2 linked regions of the Homo sapiens genome follow. The protein of the gene in region 2 interacts with the protein of the main gene of each other region in a pairwise test. Each region holds a gene or a part of one and is shown on either strand. Other genes may lie near its edges.

Region 1 (3,786 bases), about 35 Mb from region 2:
AGGTTGCAGTGAGCCTAAATCACGCCACTGTACTCCAGCCTGGGCAACAGAGTGAGACTCCGTCTCAAAAAAAAAAAAAAAAAAATTACTGAAGCTTAAATTCTGAATTAGGTATGTCTTCATATATAGAAAATTTTTATGAAACGTCAGATACAGGCGTTACCAATCCCAAGCTGAGGTCTCCATAAAAACGTTAAGCGGTGATGGCTCTCCAGGGCCCTAAAGGCTCTGATGTGTACTGTTTGCCAATTTTCATGCCATAGATATTCTCACCATGGCTGATTTGAAGCTACCAATGTGACACCACTGAACATAAAACTGGGAAGAAATATGCACAATGGGCTCCAAGTCAGCACTGGAGGATCTTCAAGAAAGTAGATCCATGTGGGAAGAAGTATCATGAAATCTGTGTGTGGAACACTCACATGAGATGGGATGGACAGGCCACACTGACACACCACCACACCGCTTGTGATTCTCAGGTTGTACCTAGAAGCAGAATTAGGATCCCAGAGCATCATGGCCACCAGACCTGGATCTCCAAACCTTGAATTTCAGGCAACAAATCTGGGGGGAGATTCCACTCACCTTGGAGTGGGGAATGGGAACGAATAATGCTGAAAAGGTTTTAAAAACTCTTACTTTGTACATACAGGACAGATGAGTGGGTTTGCCTCCCACTCAGCCAGCATGATGCTGAGACACTTTTCATCAAACTGCAAGCTCTTCTCATACTCGCTGATGATGGACTGCTCTGCAAGGCAAAGGCAGTTGGAGGGCTTCACCATGCTTCAGCTGGCCCTGTATTTAATTCTAAACTTCACTGTCAAAGGCTTCCTTCACACGAGGGAAAGATTTGGGCAAGACCACAATACCAATGACTGGTTTTTATGCTCTCTCAGGCTGGCTTCATCTTGCTGGATTCCTCTCCCTCCTCTCTGTCCCCTTTTTGTGAGCACAAGAGGTGAAGTAGGCTAAGGGCCGAGGAGACAATTTTCACACACATCTCCAGAGGCCATAGGAGCACAGATACAGAATGTCAGGGTCCCACAGGCAACTAAATAAAGTTGACAAAGAGAACTGATTGCTGGCCGGGCACGGTGACTCACACCTGTAATCCCAACACTTTGGGAGGCTGAGGCAGGCAGATCACTCGAGGTCAGGAGTTCGAAACCAGCCTGGCCAACATGGTGAAACCCATCTCTACTAACAAACACAAAAAATTAGCCAGGCATGTGGCGCACGTCTATAATCCCAGCTACTCGGGAGGCTGAGGCAGAAGAATCACTTGAACCCAGGAGGCGGAGGTTGCAGTGATCCGAGATTGCGCCACTGCACTCCAGCCTGAGTGACAGAGCGAGACTCTGTGTCAAAAAAAAAAAAAAGAGAGAACTGATTTCTGATGCCAGGACGACCCTGCTGATTCCACATACTTGGAATCTGTGTTGTTCAGAATCTGTGTGCTCATTCATTCAGCAAACATACAACAGTACCTAGTATCTGCTAGTCACAGGGGCACAAAGATGAAAAAGACTGTCATTGTTGAGCTCACAGTCTAGACATTAGGGAAGGGGTCAAAAAACTACAGTCACGCTTATTTGTTTATGTAGTGTCTATAACTGCTTTTCCACTAGAACTGCAGAGCTGAGAAATTGTGCCAGAGACCACATGGTCTGTGAAGTCTAAAGTATTTGCTATCTGGCTCTTCACAAAAAGTCTGCCAACTTCTGCTTTAGAATGTTCCTTATGGCTGAGTACAGCACAACACAGTAAATCCTTGTCACTTCAGACTTATTAGTTAAGTATGCCCCAAAATAAAACATTTGGTCAGGCTTATGTTTCACCACTAAGATAGGTTTTGTAGGTGGGGGAAGGGAAAATCAATAAAAAAAGATGATAACTTAAGGAATTTACAGTCTAACCAGAGTCGACAGCAACAGTCATTAACAACTAACACTTGCATGGCACTTATGTGTCAAATGCTATTTTAAATTCCTTACATATATTAACTTCTTCACTATTATTATCCTTATTTCAAAGGTGAAGAAACTGAGGCACGGGGAAATTAAGTGCTTTGGTCGGTGCCACACAAATTAAAGTAGTAAAGCCAAGTGAATGTTAGAGGTATGACTCAAGAGCTTGTGCTCTTGCCTCACCATAATAATAGCTGTTGATTATTGAAAGCTCTCTATATGCCAGACAATGCACTAAGTCTTCTACACACGTTATTTAAGCCTTACAACAAATTTATAGGGTATTCTCTCCATTTTATAGGTCATAAAAATGAAGCCTAAGGCTGGGGGCCATGCCTCATGTCTGTAATCCCAACACTTTGGGAGGCTGAAGTAGGAGGATGGTTTGAGTCCAGCTGTTTGAGACCAGCCTAGGCAACATAGTGAGACCCTGCCTCTACAAAAAAATTTAAAAAATTAGGCTAGGCATTTTGGCTCATGCCTGTAATCTCAAAACTTTAGGAGGCTGAGGTGGGGGGATCACTTGAGACCAGGGAGGAGTTCGAGACCAGCCTGGGCAACACAGTGAGACCCTGTCTCTACAAAAAAATAAAAAAATTAGCTCGGTATGGTGGTGCACACTTGCGGTCCCAGCTACTCGGGAGGCTGAGATGAGAGGATTGGTTGAGCCTAGGAGGATGAAGCCACAGTGAGCCATGATTACATCACTGCACTCCAGCCTGGGCAACAGAGCAAGAACCTATCTCAAAAAAAAAAAAAATACATAAATAAAATAATTTTTTGTCTTGTTTTTATCATCTTTAGCTAAAAAAAAAAAATTAATAAAAAAAAATTAGCCAGGGGTGGTGGCACACGCCTATGATCCCAGCTATTCAGAAGGCTGAGGTGGGAAGATCGCTTAAGCCCAGGAGGTCAAGGCTGCAGTGGGCCGTGATCACGCCACTGCATTCCAGCCTGGGCAGAGACCCTGTCTCAAAAAAAACAAAAACAAAAACCAAACAAGGCCTAATCAAATCAGGGCTACATGGAATAAATGACTTAACTATATAAGGTACAAAATTATGCTCTCTACACCATGCTATGGACACCTCCCTCAAGGAGTGGATGCTCACAGGCCCTGGGGAGTTAATAGAGAATGTGGCACTTAAAATGAATAGGGCAAGGGATCAGACCATGCACTATCACTGTATCCTGTAAAATGGCAGGTTTACTTTTTTTTATTTTATTTTTTAAAGTGACAGGGTCTCCCTCTGTCAGCCAGGCTGGAGTGAGGTGGTAAAATTATAGCTCACTGTAACCTTAAACTCTTGGGTTCAAGTGATCCTCCTGCCTAAGCCTTCTGGCTGAGGGAGGCTACAAGTATTTGCTACCACACCCAGATAATTTTTTTTTTTTTTTTTTTACTTCTGTAGAGACAGGATCTTGTTATGTTGCCCATGCTGGTCTTGAACTGGCCTCAAGCAATACTCCTGCCTCAGCCTCTCAAAATGCTGGGATTACAGGCATAAGCCACCACCCTCAGTGAACTATTAACCCATTAATAGAGAGGCAGGATGGTAGAAGAAACATGGGAACTGGATTCATACAACTGATTTTGCTTCCCATCTCCTCCACTTACTAGCTGTATGACCTGCACGAGAACACCAACCACCTTCTGTTCTAATACTACTATCTTACAGGGCAGTCACATGGAGAAAACAGCATCATTAAATGAGAAGTTCTTAGCACAAGGTCTAGCACCCTGGAGACCCTTATTATTGAGAAGCTAGACAGCCAAGATGTCAGAGTACAAAAGGAGTCTTTTGGACACTTG
Region 2 (3,786 bases):
TTTTAAACCCCAAAACACAGGGCTATAAATAGAATTGGGGGGCCTGAGATGAACTATTTAGGAATAAAAAGGTTCCTTCCTCTGTTGCTGGCAAAACCTAGCAAAGGAGTGAGGCAGCCCTGCCTGGGAATCACAATCATCCCAGCTCAGTTCTCTATAGACCTCACAGCAGAACTGCAGGCACATGCGCACCCATTCTGCCCCAGGAAGACCGAACCACAGGACTCTGCTTCCCACTCCACCTCCAAAGCCACTGGCCAAGGCAGTCCCTGGCACAGAGGCTGGGGATTCCACAGCCATGCCCACTGGCACAGGCCCCTGAGCTCAGGAAGAAGTCTGGCTGGATGTGAAGCTGGCCTTCTCCTGCAGCTGGGGAGTTCCCTCTGCATCAGCCACGGTGTGGTCCAGCGTAGGTTCAGCCCATCTGCAGGGCTCCTGGGAGTCATGGGGGCCTGAAGGGATCCTGATCCGACAGCTCAGTCAGAACGGCCTGGCTGGGAAGGCAGACGGAATGTGGGCCAGCCTATGCCCAAAGCCTGCAGGGGTCAGCTCATTGGCTACTTTAAGTGACCAAAGACCCTACCATCCAAGGACATTTCTGTATCCTTACCATCCCTTGAGGATTAGGTGGGCATGCACTTTGCTGTGGGCTGTAGGGGGTGGGGTATGCAGTGTTCTATTTGGCCTTTAAAGCCATGGGAACCCAGATCACCAGATCCGGAGCCTGACTCTAGCCCCTGAGCCACCTGTTGCCCTAACACCCTGTCTGACTCTCTCCCGCTGCAGCAGCCAGTCCCTCCTGCACTCCAGCAACTCCAGCCATCAGTCATCTTCCAGATCCTTGGAAAGTCCAGCCAACTCTTCCTCCAGCCTCCACAGCCTTGGCTCAGTGTCCCTGTGTACAAGACCCAGTGACTTCCAGGCTCCCAGAAACCCCACCCTAACCATGGGCCAACCCAGAACACCCCACTCTCCACCACTGGCCAAAGAACATGCCAGCAGCTGCCCCCCATCCATCACCAACTCCATGGTGGACATACCCATTGTGCTGATCAACGGCTGCCCAGAACCAGGGTCTTCTCCACCCCAGCGGACCCCAGGACACCAGAACTCCGTTCAACCTGGAGCTGCTTCTCCCAGCAACCCCTGTCCAGCCACCAGGAGCAACAGCCAGACCCTGTCAGATGCCCCCTTTACCACATGCCCAGAGGGTACGTCGTAAACCAATATTTGAAGCAATGTAAGATTTGGGGAATAGACAAAGTGCCAGTGGGTTTCTGCAACAGCCAGTCAACACATTTATTGAGCAACTATTGTGTGTCTGGCACTATGCCAGGTAGTGAGGACACACAGAGGGAAACAGTTTAGAAAGAGACAAAAACAAATCATCACGGTAGGGTAGGATAAACGCGGAGGTAAAGAGATATTCTCAATCATATTGGCCAAAGCTGAAGGAATGATTCTTTCAGTCTGGAGAACAGAGGAAGCGACATCCGAGCTGGATCTGGGAAATGGATCAGAAGTTTGTGGCCAGAGAAGGAGAGGAAAGGCATTCCCAGCAGAGAAAGCAGGGGGTCCACAGTCATGAAGGTGTGGAAGCGCATGGCATGTTCAGGAAATGCCGGAATGTTGGGTGCAGGTTCAAGTCATTGAGAGTAATTTGAAACCAGATTGTGAAAGGCCTTAAATGCCAAGCTAAAAAAAAAAAAAAAAATGGAATTTGCCTTTTAAGCAATAGGGTACCATCAGAGAGCCTCCTCACACAGGAGAGTGATGGGGTCAGAGGTGCTCGCTCAATGGATCACCCTGGCAGCTCAACGGATAGCAGGGTCCTGAACCGGGATAGGGCAGTGGGAGTGGAGGAGAGAGGACAGAACCAGGCGACCCTCAGGATGTGCTTGATGACTAACTCAAGGAGAGCAAGAGGGCGAGTCAGTTCTGACTCTGACGTTCGCAGATGATGAGAACACAGAGGGGGTGGATGGGGTAATAGAGACAATGCATTCCAGTTCAGACAGCCGAAAACCACAAAACAGCAAACACCCTCCTTCCCGGAGTCTGAGATCACAGGCGTCCAAGAAGAACAAACCCAAGCAGTAAACCCAGAAGCTAAGCTCTAGCACCCTGTGGATGCCTCTCCCATGAGCAGAGTCCCCTGCCAACCCCCTGTTCCCCCTCCCTCGGCCATCGGGGGGCTTCTCAGCCCCCACTTGGCCATGACGCTCACAGGCATCAAGGCGACTCCAGAGGGGGTGGGGGTGGAATGTTTACTATAGCCCACTGCTCACTCCCACTCACGAAGCCATGTGGAGGCAAGCAGGAGAAAATGACACTTCTGGCGTGCCTTTGCATCTGCCCTGATCGCTTTCCTAGGACAAATCATTTGCAGATTTTAGTACTTTTTTTGAATGAGTTACTTGAGAGTAAGTGGTCACAACACTCCTTTTCAAGCCGCCAAGGTTGACAGCTACTGCTCTCTGCCTTAGGGACCCAGGGAAATGGCCATTTTGGCATCCCAAAGCGCACATTTACTTAGCCTAGTGATATTCCCATCCTGCTTTGGTCCCATAATATCACCAACTATACCCCCAGATCTTATCAAATTCTGCAAAATATTCCTAAAACAAAATTCATTTTAATTCCATAGACTACTAGAACATTAAAGACCCTCAGAAGCTGTTTAGTCCACTTGGTCCCCTCTGAGCTTCAGTTATCCCATATCAGAGTCAAGATCCAGGCTCCCGCCTCCCAGGGGCATGTTTTTCTGCCCAGATCTGCTATTTTCCTCTCCTTCACGTTTTCTGCCATTTTCTTTTCCAAGCTGAATATTCCCGTAAGGAATTCTTAGGATTATGAAGACGAAGGAGAATGTAATATCAAACATGATGCATTTGAGAATTCCTTGTTTATCTCTTATTTCAGTCCTCACCAGGGGACTCAACAGTAGATTTAAGAAACCATTTCTCCTTAAACTGAGGTTGTATCTATTCATTCCTTATTCATTACCAAGGATACAAGGGCACTTCTGAGTTCTAGATGCACCAAACCCTGGCATCCTTCTGTTTGATTTTCCCTCATCGTAGGCAGTTTGGAGATACAATGGGGTTAGGGTCTGGGATGGTGGTTGAATGAAACCTTGGGGCAATAGAGTAGGGAAGGGTCTCCAGCCTTCTCTGGTGAACATCCCTCAGCTCCCGTCTGTCCAGCCTACAGGGTCCCCCTTCTCTGTCTGTCTCCAGGTCCCGCCAGGGACATGCAGCCCACCATGAAGTTCGTGATGGACACATCTAAATACTGGTTTAAGCCAAACATCACCCGAGAGCAAGGTAAAAGGAAGCACGAGTGACCCCAGAATAGGGTCTGGGTCTTGCACTTTGCATCAGGCAGGGCCCTGGGTTACAGTTAAGGAATGGCAAATAGTGGGTCCTGGGAAGCGGGGGAGGGGGATGTCCTGCTGACCTCATGACCTCCCGAGGAAGTAGGAACCACAGCAAGAATGGTGGAGATTTGACAGTACAAAGGACTTCCTGGGGACAAAAGGTGACTCTGTAACATCTGCTCTGTGAAGACCCTACGGGGCTGGGGACAGGGTGTCCAGGTGGGGCGGTGTCCATCTCTGACTCAAGGATTGTTCCAGCAATCGAGCTGCTGAGGAAGGAGGAGCCAGGGGCTTTTGTCATAAGGGACAGCTCTTCATACCGAGGCTCCTTCGGCCTGGCCCTGAAGGTGCAGGAGGTTCCCGCGTCTGCTCAGAGTCGACCAGGTATGCGTCTGTCTCTGTGCTCA

Evidence for each region. Proteins that work in one complex are often made in the same cells at the same time.
Region 1: the proteins of TNS4 (region 2) and RPAIN interact in a two-hybrid assay, tested with the Homo sapiens proteins (one large-scale study listed by BioGRID and IntAct).

Annotation. Positions count from the first base shown.
Region 1 is NC_000017.11:5,422,939-5,426,724, reverse strand, and holds part of RPAIN (RPA-interacting protein), read right to left. Parts: intron 755-3,786; coding exon 643-754; intron 589-642; coding exon of another isoform or gene 518-588; exon of another isoform or gene 496-517; intron 490-495; coding exon 426-489; intron 1-425. UniProt on the Homo sapiens protein: Mediates the import of RPA complex into the nucleus, possibly via some interaction with importin beta.
Region 2 is NC_000017.11:40,484,461-40,488,246, reverse strand, and holds part of TNS4 (tensin-4 precursor), read left to right. Parts: intron 1-786; coding exon 787-1,211; intron 1,212-3,239; coding exon 3,240-3,326; intron 3,327-3,637; coding exon 3,638-3,763; intron 3,764-3,786. UniProt on the Homo sapiens protein: Promotes EGF-induced cell migration by displacing tensin TNS3 from the cytoplasmic tail of integrin ITGB1 which results in dissociation of TNS3 from focal adhesions, disassembly of actin stress fibers and initiation of cell migration.